2 separate regions of the Homo sapiens genome follow, and region 2 is linked to region 1. The links come from fine-mapping of genetic effects on plasma protein levels. A gene starts in region 1. The other region holds a variant in brackets. All regions are shown on one strand. Distances are from middle to middle.

What was found. A credible set is the group of variants that fine-mapping cannot tell apart. PIP is the chance, under the fine-mapping model, that this variant and not a neighbour inherited with it causes the effect. Protein levels are from the aptamer-based SomaScan assay of Sun 2018.
Region 2: its variant is the best candidate, but not a certain one, in a credible set for the plasma level of the COL15A1 protein (Sun 2018, PIP 0.55).

What each region holds. Positions count from the first base shown.
Region 1 is chr9:98,943,603-98,951,932 of GRCh38, forward strand. It overlaps COL15A1 (collagen type XV alpha 1 chain), which reads left to right and starts at 305. Exons shown (of 42, transcript NM_001855.5): 1 at 305-470; 2 at 560-648. The coding sequence starts at 460. It overlaps COL15A1-AS1 (COL15A1 antisense RNA 1), which reads right to left and starts at 1,050. Exons shown (of 1, transcript NR_198999.1): 1 at 1-1,050.
Region 2 is chr9:98,873,011-98,881,340 of GRCh38, forward strand. LOC102724684 (a long non-coding RNA gene) reads right to left here and starts at 4,323. Exons shown (of 3, transcript XR_930168.2): 1 at 4,292-4,323. The variant A/ATTT (reference allele first, on the strand shown) is at 3,854.

The sequences.
Region 1 (8,330 bases):
GGCTGTGAAAGAGTGCTTTCTTGCGGGTCAGCCCCGACAGGACAGACTTAAGGGCGGGAGGGAGCCCATCCCGCTTGCCCCAACGAACGCGGGCGCGGGGCTTTCCTCGCAGGTTACATAAGGCAGCCGCGGGTGGAGGCAGCAGAGGCGAGCGCACGTCCGTCGAGGGGGAAAGGGGCGTGGGGAGGCGGCCGGGGCGGCCGGTATCCCCCGGGCGTGAGTGCGCAGCGCGCGGGGGAGCGCAGGGCGCGGCGGAGTCGGGTTTCAGAGCGCGGGTGACTCGGGGCGCGGGCCGGGAGCCGGGATTCTGCCCGCCGCCGCCGCTGCCGAGCGCCGCCTTTGTTCCCTGCAGGAAGGGCGAGCGCGGCGGCCAGCGCTCAGCGACCCTTCGTCCTCCGCTAAGCTCCAACGCTCTGCTCGACTAGCCGCGCGCCTTCCGGGGCTCCGCAGACCCGCGAGATGGCACCAAGGTAAGACCCGCTTCTCTGCTTCCTCGCGTCCCGGGCCCCTCCAATACTCTTGCCCGCCTCACCTTTTCTCCCTCGGGCACATCTTGCAGGAGGAACAACGGGCAGTGCTGGTGTCTGCTGATGCTGCTCTCGGTCTCCACGCCCCTCCCTGCTGTCACCCAGACCCGCGGTGCGACAGGTAAGCAACCCGGTCGGAGGGTGGCACCGGCTGCCTCCGCGCCCGTGGGGGAAGTCGGTTTTGGCGGCGGACGCGGCTGCGATGCGTGCCTCATTCCTGGACATAAAAGGGAGTCTTGCCACTCAGTGCGCACTGGCGGTCCCGCGGGCGGCTACCTCCTGGCAGTGCAGGGGTTATAGCTGTGAATGGGATCCCTGGGCAGCTGGGGCGGTTGGAGCGTTGTCTGGGCACCCGAGATGTCTGAGCTGGGTGCGGAGCCTCCAATCTTAGGCAGAGAGGGACTTCAGAAACAGCGCCAGCGCCAGCGCCAACAGCCTCAGCGCACCCAGCGCCAGCAGCTTAGGTTGTGCGTGCTGGCTGGCTTCTGGTAAGGGCAGGTCTGGTGCCTCTCCGCACACAGGTGCGAAGCATGAACACCGGGAGGGACATCTGGGGCTTTTGCTGCTCAAGAAATAACGGAACTGAATTGCTCGGTTGCTTAACCCAGCTCTGAGTTACCTAAGCGGTCACGTCTATCATGGGCAGTGGCTCCACCGGTGGTGGAAAGAGCTGTGGCCTGGAAGCCAGAGATCTGATCCCTTCCGTTCCCCGGGCCTCAGTTTCTCCAGCAGAACTCAGGCGGTTGGCTGAATAGTAAGATATAAGTTAAAGTAGACCTAAGTTAAAATGGGCCTCGGTTAAGGTCAGACTGCCTGGGTTTGAACTGTGGCTGGCTGAGTGATCTTGGGCAATGGATTTCATCGCTCTGTGCCTCAGTTTCCCCATCTGAAAAAGGCGATTAATTAGACCATTTTACCTTCCTAGAAATGTTGTGAATATTAGAGAAATTAGAAATAATGTGCTTCCCATGATTCCAGTATATACTAGGCACAAAATAAGTGATAGAAATTACTGCTTGATTCTTGCAGTAACTATGTGTTGGAAAGCAATGCAAGTATTTTTATTTTTATTTTAGATTCAGGGAGTGGTCATGTGTGGTTTTTTACAAGGGTATATTGCACGGTGCTGAGGTTTGGGCTTCTATTAATCCCATCGCAATGCAGGTATTTTTATAACATTGAGGTTGAGAGAAGCTTAGAAAGTGGCCAGTCCAAAAGCCAGGACTTGAATCCAGGTCTGTAGGCTCTTGCCCTTGCTCAGCTCTTTCTCCATGCAGTTTTGCAGAAGAGCCATGCTTTCTATAGCTTCTGACCCCCTCCCCTTTGAATTTGGGGGATTAGTACACATCTTCAATTGAATAAGGGAACAGAAAGTCTAGGAAACAACCTCTAGTCGGCCCAAAGGAAACGGGATTGAGAAGGTGGCCTTGGTTAACTCTTTGTTTGCCTGAAGAAGCCCAAGACAGCCCATTGTCTCCTGGGCAACAAGACCCAAATCCGATGATAGCTTTTCCTGCCAGAGTGTCCAGCCTGGCATTTATTGCAGATCAAAGGGCAGCTGGAGTATAGTTTTAGCTTCTCAGCCCCATGGCTCATGTCAGAAAGTTGCAATTTTGCATATGATATAGGGCCCTGCCAACTCAGTGGCAGAGGCCAACTTTGGGTTCCATGGTCTTTTGTGAACTTTGCTGCAACTTCCAGTTTCCCAAAAGGAAGATGGATCTGGGGATAGGAACTTTGGTGTTTCTTTCTCCTCCTGTGTGTGTCTCTGGGATCCCTCAGTGTCAGGGCTGTTGTTTCTAACACAAAGGAAGCCCTATTCCCATTTATAATGTAAAAAGGGAGGGCCAGCAAACCTTCAGGAGCTGAGAACGGTCTAAGGAGGGCCATTTGCAACTGATGGGTTTTCAGTGCCCCTTTGGGGATGTGAAACGATTCCTAAAAATGTAAACTATCCTCCTGCAAACTGCATTTGTAATGCAATTTAATATCCCTAATACTTATAAAACACTTTGTATATCCAGGTGGAGGTGTGAACATGTTCATATTTCATTCATCCAATCCTTACAACCACTCCAGGAGGTGAGGACTGAGAACAGTTACTATCTCTGTTTTTCAGATGAAGAAACAGAGGTCCAAAGTCACAAGACTTCTAAGTGGCTGGGGTGGGATTTGAACCAGACAGTCTGACTCCAGAGTCCTTGCTCTTAACCATCCTAGTGTGTAGTTAGAAGAGCTTCACGGATGGAGAAGGCTTTAGGGGTTCCATGGTCTCCAATGAGCCCCACAATCTGAATGTCACAATTGTAACATGAGTCCATTGCATGGCATTGTGCAGTCTTCAAAGCACAATGTCACCTTCACCACGTCCCTGGAATCACCACCCAGCAGTGCTGAGAAGTAAATTGGGCTCTGTCTTACAGAGGGGATGTGACTTCCTCAAGGCCGCATGACTGTAACTGGGTAGATCCATAATAGCCCTCTCACGTCTGTGAACTTCTGGGCTGGTGCTGTTCCTTCCATAGGACCACTGCCCAACTGGCTATAAAAAACAATTGCCAAGACTTCATAGCACTATGAACCAGCAGTGTTTTAAGTGCCCTGCCATGAATGAGCTCAGTCAATCATCACAACAACCCCATGTCTTATCCCCTTTTACAGATGAGGAAACTGAGGCACAGTCTTTTGCCCAAGGGCATGTAGCCTTCAGTAATATAAGCACAATTTGAGCCCAGAGGGTCTGACTCCAGAATCTGTACTTGTAACCACTATGCTGTATGCTTAAGTGGGGTGGCTTCTGAAAGCATGTTTGTAAGTGGGCTGTTATGAGCGGAAATACATGTTCCCAACGATTTGGCAGTTTCTTAAAATGTTAAATATATACTTACCCTACAATCTAGAACTTCCACTCCTAAGTATCTACTTAAGGGAAAGGAAAGCATATGGCCACCCAAAAACTCATATGTATGTTCATAGCAGCATTATTTATAATGACCAAAACTGGAAATAAAGTTAAATTCACCATTAGCTGGTGAATAGATAAACAAATGAGGTGTATCCATTTAATGGAATACTACTCAGCAATAAAAAGGAATGAAGTATTGATCAATGCTACAACAACATGGATAAACCTTAATACCATTAAGCTAAGTAAAAGAAGCCAGACATTAAAAAGCAATACATTGTAAGAGTCCCTATATATGAGATTTCTGTAAAGGCAGAACCACAGAGACAGAAAACAGAAGCAGAGATTGACTGCAAAGGGGCATGAGGAAACTTTTTGGGGAGTGTTCTAAAACTGGATTGTGGTGGTAGTTGTGCAACTCTATAAATTTACTAAAATAATCTAACTATACATTTAAAATGGGTGAATTTTATGGAATGTAAGCTATGCCTCAATAAAGCTGCTTCTTAAATAAAAGAATGTATTTTCCCAGAGCATCTAGGCCCCAGATCTGGTGGGGCTTCAAGGTGGGGTTCCTAGCCAGCCTGGTACAGAGCTGGCACACAGCTCACAACTTAAAAGCTGCTGGCCTCTTAGGGCATTGATTCTCTCAGAAAATGGGTCCAGAGTTCTGCCTGCACCTCCAGGTCTCTGGATCGACTCTCCCTACTATCCCTGAATGCCATTGTGGGCCCAGGACAGGGCTCCTCAGGTAGGGGTAGAACACATGCATATGGGTTTTTTGCAGGTAGTTGATCTGTTAAAAAGTGGGTCTTTGTAAACTTCCTGATATCCTGCACGCCCTAAAACAGCACAAGTTCAGGTATTGGAAAACCTGGGTTCCACTCACTGACTTCCTCCATGAACTTAGATGAGTTGCTTTTCCCACTCTGAGCCTGTTTTCCCATCTACGAAGTGGAGAGGCAAGAGTCACTCATCTCTGTAGTCCTAATTTAAAATGTTGGGAAACAAAACAAAATAATATTTTTCTAGTTTGAGGTTTGATTATTTCACATAGTTTAGTTCAACAAACCCATTCTGTGCTGGCCCTCATGCTGGCTGGGTACAGAAAGGATTTGGGCACAGAGCTGCCCCAAAGGGGTCATAGTTCACAGGAAGAAAGAAAGGGCCACAGACAACTGTAATGCCATTTTTCCTGAAGTCTTCTCATCTACCATGCAGAATGTCCTGTGTGCAGCCAATCCCATCCTTCTACACCATCCTGTTTAAAGACACACTTGTCGGCCGGGCGCGGTGGCTCACACCTGTAATCCCAGCACTTTGGGAGGCTGGGGCGGGCAGATCATTAGGTCAGGAGATTGAGACCATCCTAGCTAACACGGTGAAACCCTGTCTCTACTAAAAATACAAAAAATTAGCCAGGCATGGTGGCGGGCGCCTGTAGTCCCAGCTACTTGGGAGGCTGAGGCAGGAGAATAGCTTGAACCTGGGAGGCGGAGGTTGCAGTGAGCCAAGATCGCGCCACTGCACTCCAGCCTGGCAACAGAGGGAGACTCTGTCTCAAAAAAAAAAAAAAAAAAAAAGAGACACTTGTCAGTGGGTGTCACCCACATGGCCTCTTGTACCTCCAATGGTCAGGGTTGAGCTGGAGGACAACACCAATCCTTCCTTTTCCTGGTAAAGTTTCAGGGTCATTGGAATACCCAATATTTTAGAAGATAAGGGGGCTATTGTCCAGGTAGGGATGGTGGTGTCACAAGTAATTTGCTCTTGCTAATAAAGTGTTGATGATTGCAAATTATTTGCTTATGTTTAAACTGTTTTATTGTGAAATACAACATCCATTCAGAAAAGTGCATGCTAAAGGTACAGTACAATCTTGTATCACAGAGCAAACATGTAATCCAGATGAAGATATAGGATAATCCCCAGAAGGTCTCCTAAACCCCTTTGCTGTGGTTTTATTTTCCCTTCTTTCTCTCTGAGGTAACCATTACCTTGACATTAACAGTCATCCCTTTCTTGCTTTTTAAAAATAGCTTTACTATCTAAGTGTGTATCCCAAAATTCTGAAGTTCTGTTTTACTCGATTTTGAACTTTTTAAATGCAGAATCTATTCTTTCATGTCTGATTCTTTCAATGAATAATAAGTTTTTGAGATTTATTCATGCTGCTGTATGTGGCTGTAGTTCATTGCCATTGCTGTATAATAGTCCATTGCATTAGCATAGCATATGTTACTTATCCATTCTTCTCCAACATTTGGGTTGTTTCCATTTTGGGCTAATGTAATAGTGTCGCTCTGAACATTCTTGTACATTTCTCTCAGTGCACATGTGCATGAATTTCTGTTGGTTCTATACCTACGAGTGGAGTGCTGAATCAGAGTGTGCATATCCCCCAACTGAGTAGACAATGCCAGCATGTCTTCTAAATGGTTGTACAGATCCACACAGCTACCAAGAAATGAGGGCCTCCATTTCTTCACATCCTCACCAGCACTTGATCTTGTCACTGAGCTTAACTTCAGCATTTCTAATGGGTGCATATTTGATCTTACTGTAGCCTTAATTTCCATTTTCCTAATTATTAATTACCTTTTCATATGTTTATTGACCATTTAGATATCCAGACTTACTTTTTATTGAGGTGAAATTTACATTATATAACAGTAACCATTTTGAAGTGCACAATTCAGTGTCATTTAGTTCCTTCACAATATTGTGCAATCAACATCTCTATCAAGTTCCAAAACATTTTCATCACCCCAAAAGAAATATCTATGCCCATTAATCAATTGCTCCCCATTCCCTCATTTTCTCAGCTTCAGGCAGTCACTAAACTACTTTCTGCCTCTATGGACTTGCCTATTCTAGATATTTCATGAAAATGGAATCATACAGTGTATGACCTATTGTGTCTGACTTCTTCCATTTAACATAAAGTTTTCATGGTTCACTCATGTTGTATCATGTGTCAGTACTTCATGCCTTTTTATGACTGAGTAATATTCCAGTGTATGTATATACCAAATTTTGTTTTTCCATTCATTTGTTGATGGACATTTGGGTTATTTCTACCTTTTGTTTTTTGTGAATAGTGCTGCTCTGAACATTTGCATACAAGTATTCGGATGCTTGACGGCCTGTTTCTACTTCTTTGCACCTAGGAGCAGAATTTCTGGTCATATGATAATTCTGTGTTTCAAGTATGACGAACCCCCAAACTGTTTTCCACAGTGGCTGCACCATGTTTACATCCCCACCAGCAATGTATGAGGGCTTTAATTATGCACATCATCGCCAATGCTTGTTTTCAGTTTTTAAAATTATAGCCATTTTAGTGGATATAAAATGGCATCTCATTGTGGTTTTTATTTGCAATTCTTTCTTTCTTTCTTTTTTCTTTCTCCTTCCTTCCCTCCTTCCTTCCCTCCCTCCCTTCCCTCCTTCCTTCCCTCCCTCCCTTCCTTCCTTCCTTCCCTTCCCTTCCTTCCTTCCCTTCCCTTCCCTTCCCCTTCCTTCCTTCCTTCCTTCCTTCCTTCCTTCCTTCCTTCCTCCCTCCCTCCCTCTCTCTCTTCCTTTCTTTCTTTCTTTTGACAGAGTCTCACTCTGTCACCCAGGCTGGAGTTGGTGGCCGGCCCATCTTGGCTCACTGCAACCTCCACCTCCCAGGTTCAAGCAATTCTCCTGCCTTAGCCTCCCGAGTAGCTGAGACTACAGGCATGCCCAGCTCATTTCTGTATTTTTAGTAGAGATACAGTTTCACCATATTGGTCATGTTGGTCTCGAACTCCTGACCTCATGATCCACCCACCTCGGCCTCCCAAAGTGCTGGGATTACAGGCGTGAGCCACTGTGCCTGGCCTATTTGCAATTTTCTAATGACAAATGACGTTGCGCATTTTTTCAAGTGCTTCTTGGCCACCATCTTCTCTGGAGAAATCCTGATTTAATGGGAAGCATATGAATCAGAGCAGCGCAGAACTTCCCTCTAACCACCCCACTCTTGCTCCCTGGCAGTCTGATTTGCTTTTCTGAGTGAGAGAGATGTGGGTAGGAGTCACACCTGAAGTTTTGCCTCATTGACCTGCAGTCTCCATCTCCCAAAGGACAATTGTCTAGAGCTGGCCACTTTGTCCAGAGCTGGACTTTAGCAATTTGTCATTATTATAAATAGTGCTGCTGGGACATCTTCAGACAAATGGCCTTTTTCTTTTGGATTATTTCCTTTGGCAATATTTCCCCCCAAAGAACTCACCCATCAAAGAACAGAACTGGTTGGACAGTTCTTACTATGTATTTAGATGGATTTTTCTTATTTAATCATGATGCTTCCTAGTATAATTGCCCTCACTGGGTTCTCACTGTACCTGAGATGGAGTCATGCTCCTGGCCCCAGAGGACCCTGCCTTCCTCCACTAACACTAAGTCCCTATGGACTTCAGCTCACATCAAATCACTGGCAGGCTTCTGAATGGGACATGCAACGTCCCACACCTGTGCTTTTGCATAGGCTAGTGCCATTTTTATTCTATTATTATTTTTTGGGACAGGGTCTTCTCTGTTGCCCAGGCTGTAGTGCAGTGGTACAATCTTAGCTCATTGAAGCCTCAAAGTCCTGGGCTCAAGGGATCCTCCTTCCTCAGCCTCCTGAGTAGCTGGATTACATACCCTCATACCCAGCTAATTTAAAAATTTTTTGTAGGCATAGAGTTTTGCTGTGTTGCCCAGGCTGGTCTAAAACTCCTGGCTTCAAGCAATTCACCCTTCTTGACCTCCCAAAGTGCTGGGATTACAGGCGTGAGCCACTGCACCTGGCTACCAGTACCATTTTAAAAATGCCTTTCCCCCATAGTACCTGGGGACCCCCAAATCATCCTTCTAAGATTCTACTC
Region 2 (8,330 bases), 71 kb before region 1:
ATCAGTTATAGTCCCTGACCTGCCTGCCTTGTAGAGCTGTTGTATGGATCAAAGAAAAAGGGGCTTTCTAGACCCAGGAGTGCTCTTCGAAGGGAGGCCAGGACGCCCAACAGTGACTCACGATCTCAACTCTTCTCATGTTCACCACTCCCACTGTGTTGTGAGGTCTCCCAGATCTGGGGAATCCATGGTCATTATGGATTACAAGTGTGAATGGACAAGCTTGGATACCTCTGAGCACACATTCCAAGCTGCCTTTTTTTTTTGAGACGGAGTTTCGCTCTTGTTGCCCAGGCTGGAGTGCAATGGGGTGATCTCAACTCACTGCAACCTCTACCTCCTGGGTTCAAGCGATTCTCCTGCTTCAACGTCCCTAGTAGCTGAAACTACATGTGCCCACCACCATGCCCGGCTAATTTTTTGTATTTTAGTAGAGACAGGGTTTCACCATGTTGGTCAGACTGGTTTCGAACTGTGACCTCAGGTGATCCACCTGCCTCGGCCTCCCAAAGTGCTGGGATTATAGGCGTGAGCCATCACACTTCCATGCTGCATTCTTTTGATGGCTGCTGACAAAATCTCAACTCCAGCTGTAAGCAAAAATGGAATTTATTGGCACACAGAACTAAGAAGTCAGGGACTTCAGGCACAGCTGGATCCAGGATTCCAACAATATCTATCCTAGGGCTTTTTTTTTTTTTTCTCTGCTTCCTTCTGCTGGCTTCATTCTGAGGCAAGCCTTCCTTACTCCCTGAAGGGACTCCAGGAAGCTCCAGGCTTCCGTCATTCTTACAGCTAGCAATCTCAATATTTTCAGTGAAAGTTCAGGTATTGAGTTTTGCTAGATTCTCTTGGATCAAGGGCCTATCTCTGATGTACCACTGTGGAGAGGGGCATTAGAGGGACCTGAATTCCATGCCCACCTTTGGAGCAGGGACGGACATAGCACTACCTGAACTAGGCATGGGGAGAAGTGGCTCAGTGAAGCAGGAAAGAGAAGATGCATGCCAATCAGGCAATAGCAACTGTCATCAGTTGCCAGTGGCCTGGGCAGAGTGGGTGTTAAATCGTGAGGTCAGCATATCTTGTGTCTGGGGCCCCTTCCTCCTTCTGGGTGCCATCTCCCACCCCTGTGCCATCAGCTGGAAGTGGCAGAGAATTACTCAGATGAGCTGGGCCCACAGAGCCAGAGGAATCTGTGGGTCTGGGAAGGCAGCCAGGAGGTCAGGCCTCCTAAGCTTGGGGTGGAAGGAGCCTGCCAAGTCTTGGACTCCCTCCTTGCCCCAGCGCCTCCCTGCCTGGCTGCAGCTAGATCCCTGGAGGCAGACAAGTTCGGAGGGCAAGGGTGAGGGGGTGCACTGATAGAAAGAGGAGTGACGGGACTCAGGAGGCCTGAGGTTAGGCTGGGTGAGCTCTGGCTCACTGGGAAGCCATCTCTGCCTTAGACTTACCTCACAGGTGTGCCACCTGAGCACAAGGCCCCATGCCTAGACGGGCCCCATGCTTGGTATAATGCTCTACTGTTACCATCTTGAAATTCTTCATAGTTTTTGAAATAGATGCCTCCAGTTTTCATTTTGCACAACCCCCAAAAGTTATGTAGCCAATCTTGGTCTCAGTCTCCCCATCCATGTCAAGAAAGTGATGGACTAAAGGACCAGAGGAGCTTGGAGGTGACTTCCCGCTGACAGCAGAAGCAGGTGGTCCTCCAGGGGAGCTTCTCTGGGCTCACAAGTGGTTATTTCCCCTGAGAAGGTCACCCAAAGCTGCCCCATGTTGCCACCTCCTTTCTCCTCTTCCAGCTCCTGTACTTTGAGGGGTGGAAAGAGCTAGAGCTGCGATCAGCACCCACGACTCAGGGAGCACTGGACTTCCCATCATCACTCACCCATCTGGCTTAACGCCCCCCCCACCATCTGGCACCATGCTACTCATAGTGTGGGTCATGGACCAGCAGCCCTGGCATTCCCTTGGAGCGTGTTAGAAATGCAGACTCTCAGGCCCCACTCAGACCTACTGAAGCAGAATCTGCATTTTAACAAGCTCCTGGGTGATTCTCAGGCTCATTAAGGTCTGAGAAGTTCTGATGAAGGCTCATTAAGGCTCCCTCCAGGGCATGCCTTGGGCCTCAGGACTGGGCAGGACAGCATTGCGGGGTGGATAAAGGCACAGAGCTGGAGAAGTTCAGGGTGTCCACATTTGCTCCAGCTGCCATGACAAGTACTCCAGGCTGGGTGGCTTAAACAACAGAAACTGATTTTCTTGCAATTCTGGAGGCAAGAATTCCCAGATCAAGGTGTGCCCTGGGATGGCTTCCTCTGAGGCCTCTCTCCGTGGCTTGTAGGTGGCCGCCTTCTGTCTCTGTGTTCACATGGCATTCACTCTGTGCTTCTCTGTGTCTTAATCTCCTTTTCTTATGAGGACACCACCCGTCAGATTGGGTTAGGGTACCCCAATGAACTCACTCAAACTTAATGACCTCTTTAAAGACCATGTATCCAAATACAGCCACATTCTGAGGTACTGTGGGTTAGGACGTCAATGTATGAATTCAGGGAGGGACGTGATTCAGCCCATGGCACGGGTGTGCACAGGAGGGGCACAAAATGGAAGTCATCAAGCGTTCACTATGTGCCAGGCTTGGAGCCAGGTGCTCTGCTTATTTTTTTCACTTAATCCCCAAACAGCCCTGAGAGGTACAAAGTGAGCCACAAACACTGTTGAGGTCCCTCTGTGTGCCAGGCACTGGGCTAGGCACACACATACATCATGGCACGGCTTCCCCACAGAGTCTGCTCCTCATCACACTCACAGGTGTGGAACCTGAGACCCAGTGAGGAAAGAGAGGATGCTCCAGGTCATTCAGGGATGGGGCCAGGACTCAGGTGTTTGTGGTCCATTTTCACCCCTCCTTGTCTACCTCCTTGCCTTGCTGCTTGGGAACAGTGGTTTACAAGTCATTCTGCATTGCCATCAAATAAACTAGAGGGTCTTTTTGTTTTCTTTTTTGAGATGGAGTCTCACTCTATTGCCCAGGCTGGAGTGCAATGGCGCAATCTTGGCTCAGTGAAAACTCCGTCTCCCGAGTTCAAGCGATTCTCCTGCCTCAGCCTCCCAAGTAGTTGGGATTATAGGCATGCACCACCACACTTGGCTAATTTTTGTATTTTCAGTAGAGATGGGGTTTCACCATGTTGGTCAGGCTGGTCTTGAACTCCTGACCTCAGGTGATCCACCCGCCTTGACCTCCCAAAGTGCTGGGATTACAGGTGTGAGCCACGGTGCCTGGCCATTAGAGGGTCTCTAATTGTAGAAGACAAAAAGAAGTGGTGAAAAACAAAAAGACACCTGCTGGCTGGTGGGGTGTCCTGGAGAAAGGCCACACCCATACCAGGCACCAAGGCTGGTGTGTGATGAATGTGGAACCCCTGGACCCTTTGCAGATGGGGTTCTGGAGATACTCCAGCCTCAGCAAGGGGAGGAGCATATGCTCCAAGCTTGCCAAGTGGGTGGTTCCTGCGGTTGGATTTTGGGGCACACTCTGCTCTGGGGAGTGGAGCTCACAGAGCCATTTTCAGTCCCGGTAAGCCCCCAGTTTCCTTCTGCCACTCTGAGCTCTCTTTACCTATTCTTCATCATCGGGACACTTGTGCGTCTACACTGGCAGTCATGGGATTTTTTTTTTTTTTTTTTTTTTGAGACAGAGTCTCACTCTGTCATCCAGGCTGGAGTGCACTGGTGCTATCTTGGCTCACTGCAACCTCTGCCTCCCAGGTGCAAGTGATTCTCCTGGCTCAGCCTCTCGAGTAGCTAGGATTACAGGTGCATGCCACCACACCTGGCTAATTTTTGT[A/ATTT]TTTTTTTTTTTACTAGAGATGGGGTTTCACCATGTTAGCCAGGCTAGTCTCGAACTCCTGGCTTCAAGTGATCCATCCACCTCTGCCTCCCAAAGTGCTAGGATTATAAGCATGAGCCATGGCGACCGGCCTGGTCATGGGATTTTAAAGCAGGCAGGGGCCCTGGAAGGACCCAGTGGGCCAGTCCATTGACCCTGGTTTGAGTCACAAACTCCTTGGAGAGCCTCAAGGGAGCCATGGCCCCTGTCACTAGGAGAGCACACCTGTGTGCACACACACATAGACACACCTGACCATTCTCAGCTGCAGGAGCCTCCAGGTGCAAGATTCTGCCTTAGAAGGCTCTACAGCACCTCCGCCCTTGGTGCACACCCTGGGGGATGAGTTCTTACTTTCTGCCGTGCCTGCCCGGGGCTTCGGTGCACCACCCCAGTTACCTCTTTTTATTGGAGCCGACTCTGCCTCCCAGTGGCTTCTTTCCATGGGTCATTGTTCTGCTCCTCAGAGCCACCTGGAATGAGGTCACCATGTCCTCTCTGTGACACAGATGAGAAGCTAAGGATCTACATCCCCTGGAGTTCGCCCCTCTCCATGGTGTTCAGCTGTGGCTCTTTCTTCGCAGGGCGGGCATCCAGACCCTTCCCAGCCTGTCTTGGCCCCAGGCCCATTCCTGTTTCTCATTGTTCTCATTAAGGGCTGGCCCCCAAAACACAGAATTCCAGGTGCAGTCTGGCCAGCCCAAGGAGAGCAGATCGCTCATCCCGTTTGTTCTGGATGTTGGCCCCCATTAATGTAGCTCTGGAGACAAACATAACACAGCAGATACACTGAGCTGGGGGTCAACTCAGACTCCCAGATTGTCTCCCTGTAAACAGCTGTGCAGTCACATCTCCCCTTTCCTCTTTGTAGTATTTGTGAGGTTTTAGATGGAAATCCCAGTTTATACCAGATATTTGGTTTTCAATCATGCTCCTTTACTGCTCATAGTGCCCTCAGCCAAAGGCATTTCCACCCTGAGCTTCAGTTTCCTCACAGATTTGTTGGGATGGTGAAATGTATAAGGTCAATGTTGGGGCTTGGAAGGGTATTCTCTTTCTGTGTGTTGTTGTTTTGGAAAAGATTTCTGGTTGTTTCCAAAATCCATTTCATCCCTTTTACATGGAAATAAAACTTTCACCTTGGTGTGCAGATGCTCAGCATGAGACCATAATTCCCAGCCTGTCTTGCGCTACATGGAAGGACTGGGCAAGCAGCGTGCAATAGTCTCTGCTTATCCACACTTCCCACAGTTTCTGTTACCCAAAGTCCAGAACGGTAAGTGATTTGGGGAGAGAGAGAGAGAGAGAGAGAGAGAGAGAGCGAGAGAGAGAGAGGGAAGTCACGTTCACATATTTTTTTATTACTGTGTATTATTATAATTGTTCTATTTTATTAGTTACATTGCTAGTCTTTCACGGTGCCTCATTTATAAATTAAACTTTATCATAGGTATGTATGTATAGGAAAAACATAGTGTATATAGGTTTGGTACTATCTGCAGTTTCAGGCATTCACTGGGGGTCTTGGAACGCATCCCCCACAGATAAGAGGGACTCTTGTACTCAATTTCCAGTTGTGCCTTTGAAGAGAGGAGTGTGTCCTCTTTCGTTACCTGCTCCGTGGATGGAGCATAGATGTGTGGGGCGCTATCTGGGATACCTGGATGAGTACAGCCCCTTGGGATGGCAGAGCAATAAGACAGAAGCAGCCTGGGCCCCTGATGACTTCAAAGAGCTGCCTCAGCCTCCTCAGAAAGACTTTCTTTTTTTCTTTTTTTTTTTGAGATGGAGTCTCTTTGTGTCACCCAGGCTGGAGTGCAGTGGTGCAGTCTCAGCTCACTGGAACCTCCGCCTCCCGAGTTCAAGCAATTCTCCTGCCTCAGCCTCCAGAGTAGCTGGGATTACAGGCGCGCATCACCACGCCCGGCTAATTTTTGTATTTTTGGTAGACACGAGGTTTCACCATGTTGGTCAGTCTGCTGTCAAACTCCTGACCTCATGATCCGCCCACCTTGACCTCCCAAAGTGCTAGGATTTCAGGCATGAGCCACCACATCTGGCCAGAAGGACTTTCATGTGAGTGAGAGATGAACTCCTATTCTGCATACGCCGTGTTATATGTGTTGCTCAGCTGAGCCTTGTCACAGCCTAATCAATGAGTTTTTTTGAGGCATTTTATTTAGAAGAGGCAGATACAGGCTCAAATCAATAGGGAAGAAGAGAGGGACTTGCAAATACTCTAAAGCCAATTTTTTTTTTCTTTACTTCTGCTTCTTTCCTTCCCTCCTGCCATTTCTCCCCTCTCCTTCTATCCAAACTTTGAACGCTTATTGAGTTCATTTTCTGTACCAGGCTTTCTGCCAGGCACTGTGGATACAGAGATGATTAAGACACACTGTCTGCTGTAGACTAGCAAGGGAGACAGAGGGCATGTAGACATGCCCTCAAGTCCATGTGACAAGATCACCATGGAGGGGTTTACAGGGTGATGGGTGGACTCAAAGAAGCAGCCACCTCTTTTGCTTGGAAAGGTGGGAGGAAGGGAGTCAGAGGATTACGTCTTGAGTTGATCCATGTGGGCTGCATAGAGGTTCTCCAGAAAGAGAAGAGAGGGAACAGCATTCCAAGCAGAGGAAATAGCTTGTGCAAAGTACTAGAAGTGTGCAGGAGCATTGAGCGCAAAGAGCTGTGGGCTCTTTGTGGTGGGAGTGAGGGGTGGAAGACAGCTGATCAGGGACTTGCTTTGCAGCAAAGTGCCCTGCCAGAAGTCAGCTCCCTTCTGAGGAGTGCTGAGCATGGAAGAAACAACTGCTTTGCAAACAAACACCTCATGTATTTATTTCCTCTGTTTTCCTCACATCTCTCATCTTTTCCCCTGAATGAGATGCCTCCTGGTTTCACTTAATTTCCACAGGAAACTGGAAGGAGCCACATCTGTCTAAATTCTCCCTAACTCACTCCAGATTTTCAGGGTCAGAATATGGCCGCTGAGAGTCAGGGTCTCTGTGGGGTCAGAGGTGACAGCCCCAGAATTGGGGTCTTGTGCCGAGCCCCTTATGGCAGGGGAGGCCAGGCATCAGTTCCCTGCACGATACAGATGTTCAGCAAGGATTTTGTTGGGAGCATAATCAGCGGCCAAGGCAGCCCCTGGAGAGGGGAATGTGGGCCTCATTCCCATGGGCTCCTGCCCAACGTTCCTTCGTTCCTGAGTTTTATGTTCCTGGGAGAGGCTGGAGGCCGAGCAATGCTCCAGCTCCACAGCAGCTGCCCCCTTCTCGGAAAGGCAACAACCTCTTTCCTCACATGGCCTTGGGACGTTGGACACCCAGCTCGGGGACATTGTTTTGTTCACAGCTGCATGCTCATGGCATTTATTTAGGGGACACTTTCTCTTCTGCCACCTACAAGGAGGCAGCTTGGAGCAGAAGGAGCAGAGCTGAGCCTCCAGAGATGGAGGTCTGTTCCTGGAGAAAGTGGCTCCCTCTCTTTGAGGCTCAGTTTCCTCATCTGTAAAACAGAGCAGGCTGGCCCAGGTGGCATCTAAGGTGATGTGTGAACAGCTGTGGACTTTGGAGTCATGCAGACTTGTGTTCTGCCTGGGCCAGTTGGCAGCTGCGTGGCCGTGGGGAGGTCCTGAACCTCCCCAGCTGCGGTGTTCTGTCCTCATCTGTGCATGGAGGACATGGGATCAGGTCATCTTGAAGGGCCTCGAGGGCTTAGTGATGAGGCCAGGAGAGCCCACTCTCAACAACGATGCTGAGGAAAAGCATTTTGTGTTCTCCCTCTTGGCAAAATATTTATAATTCTATGCCTGTTGGAACCAAGCAAGGTCAGCACAAAAGAATTGGCCCTCCACTATCCTAAGAAAACTAAAGCAGGAACAGTAGAGCAAATACCACATGCTCTCACTTGTAAGTGGGAGCTAAACATCAAGGACACGTGGCCCCGAGGAGGGGAACAACAGGCACAGGAGCCTACTTGAAGGTAGTGGATGGGAGGAGGGTGAGTTGGGTGCTATGCTCATTGTCTTGGTGGCAAAATAATCTGTACAGCAACCCCCTGTGACACTCAATTTACCTATATAACAAACCTGCATATATACCCCTGACCCTAAAATAAAAGTTAACAAAATAAATAAGTAAAACAAAACATATGGGAGACCGAGGCGGGTGGATCACCTGAGGTCGGGAGTTTGAGACCAGCCTGGCTAACATGGTGAAACCCCATCTCTACTAAAAATACAAAAATTAGTCGGGTGTGGTGGCACGCACCTGTAATCCCAGCTACTTGGGAGGCTGAGGCGGGAGAATTGCTTGAACTCGAGAGGCAAGGTTGCAGTGAACCAAGATCATGCCACTGCACTCCAGCCTGGGCAACGGAGCAAGACTCCATCTCAAAAAAAAATAATTTTTTTAACAAAAGAAGAGGCATCCATGAT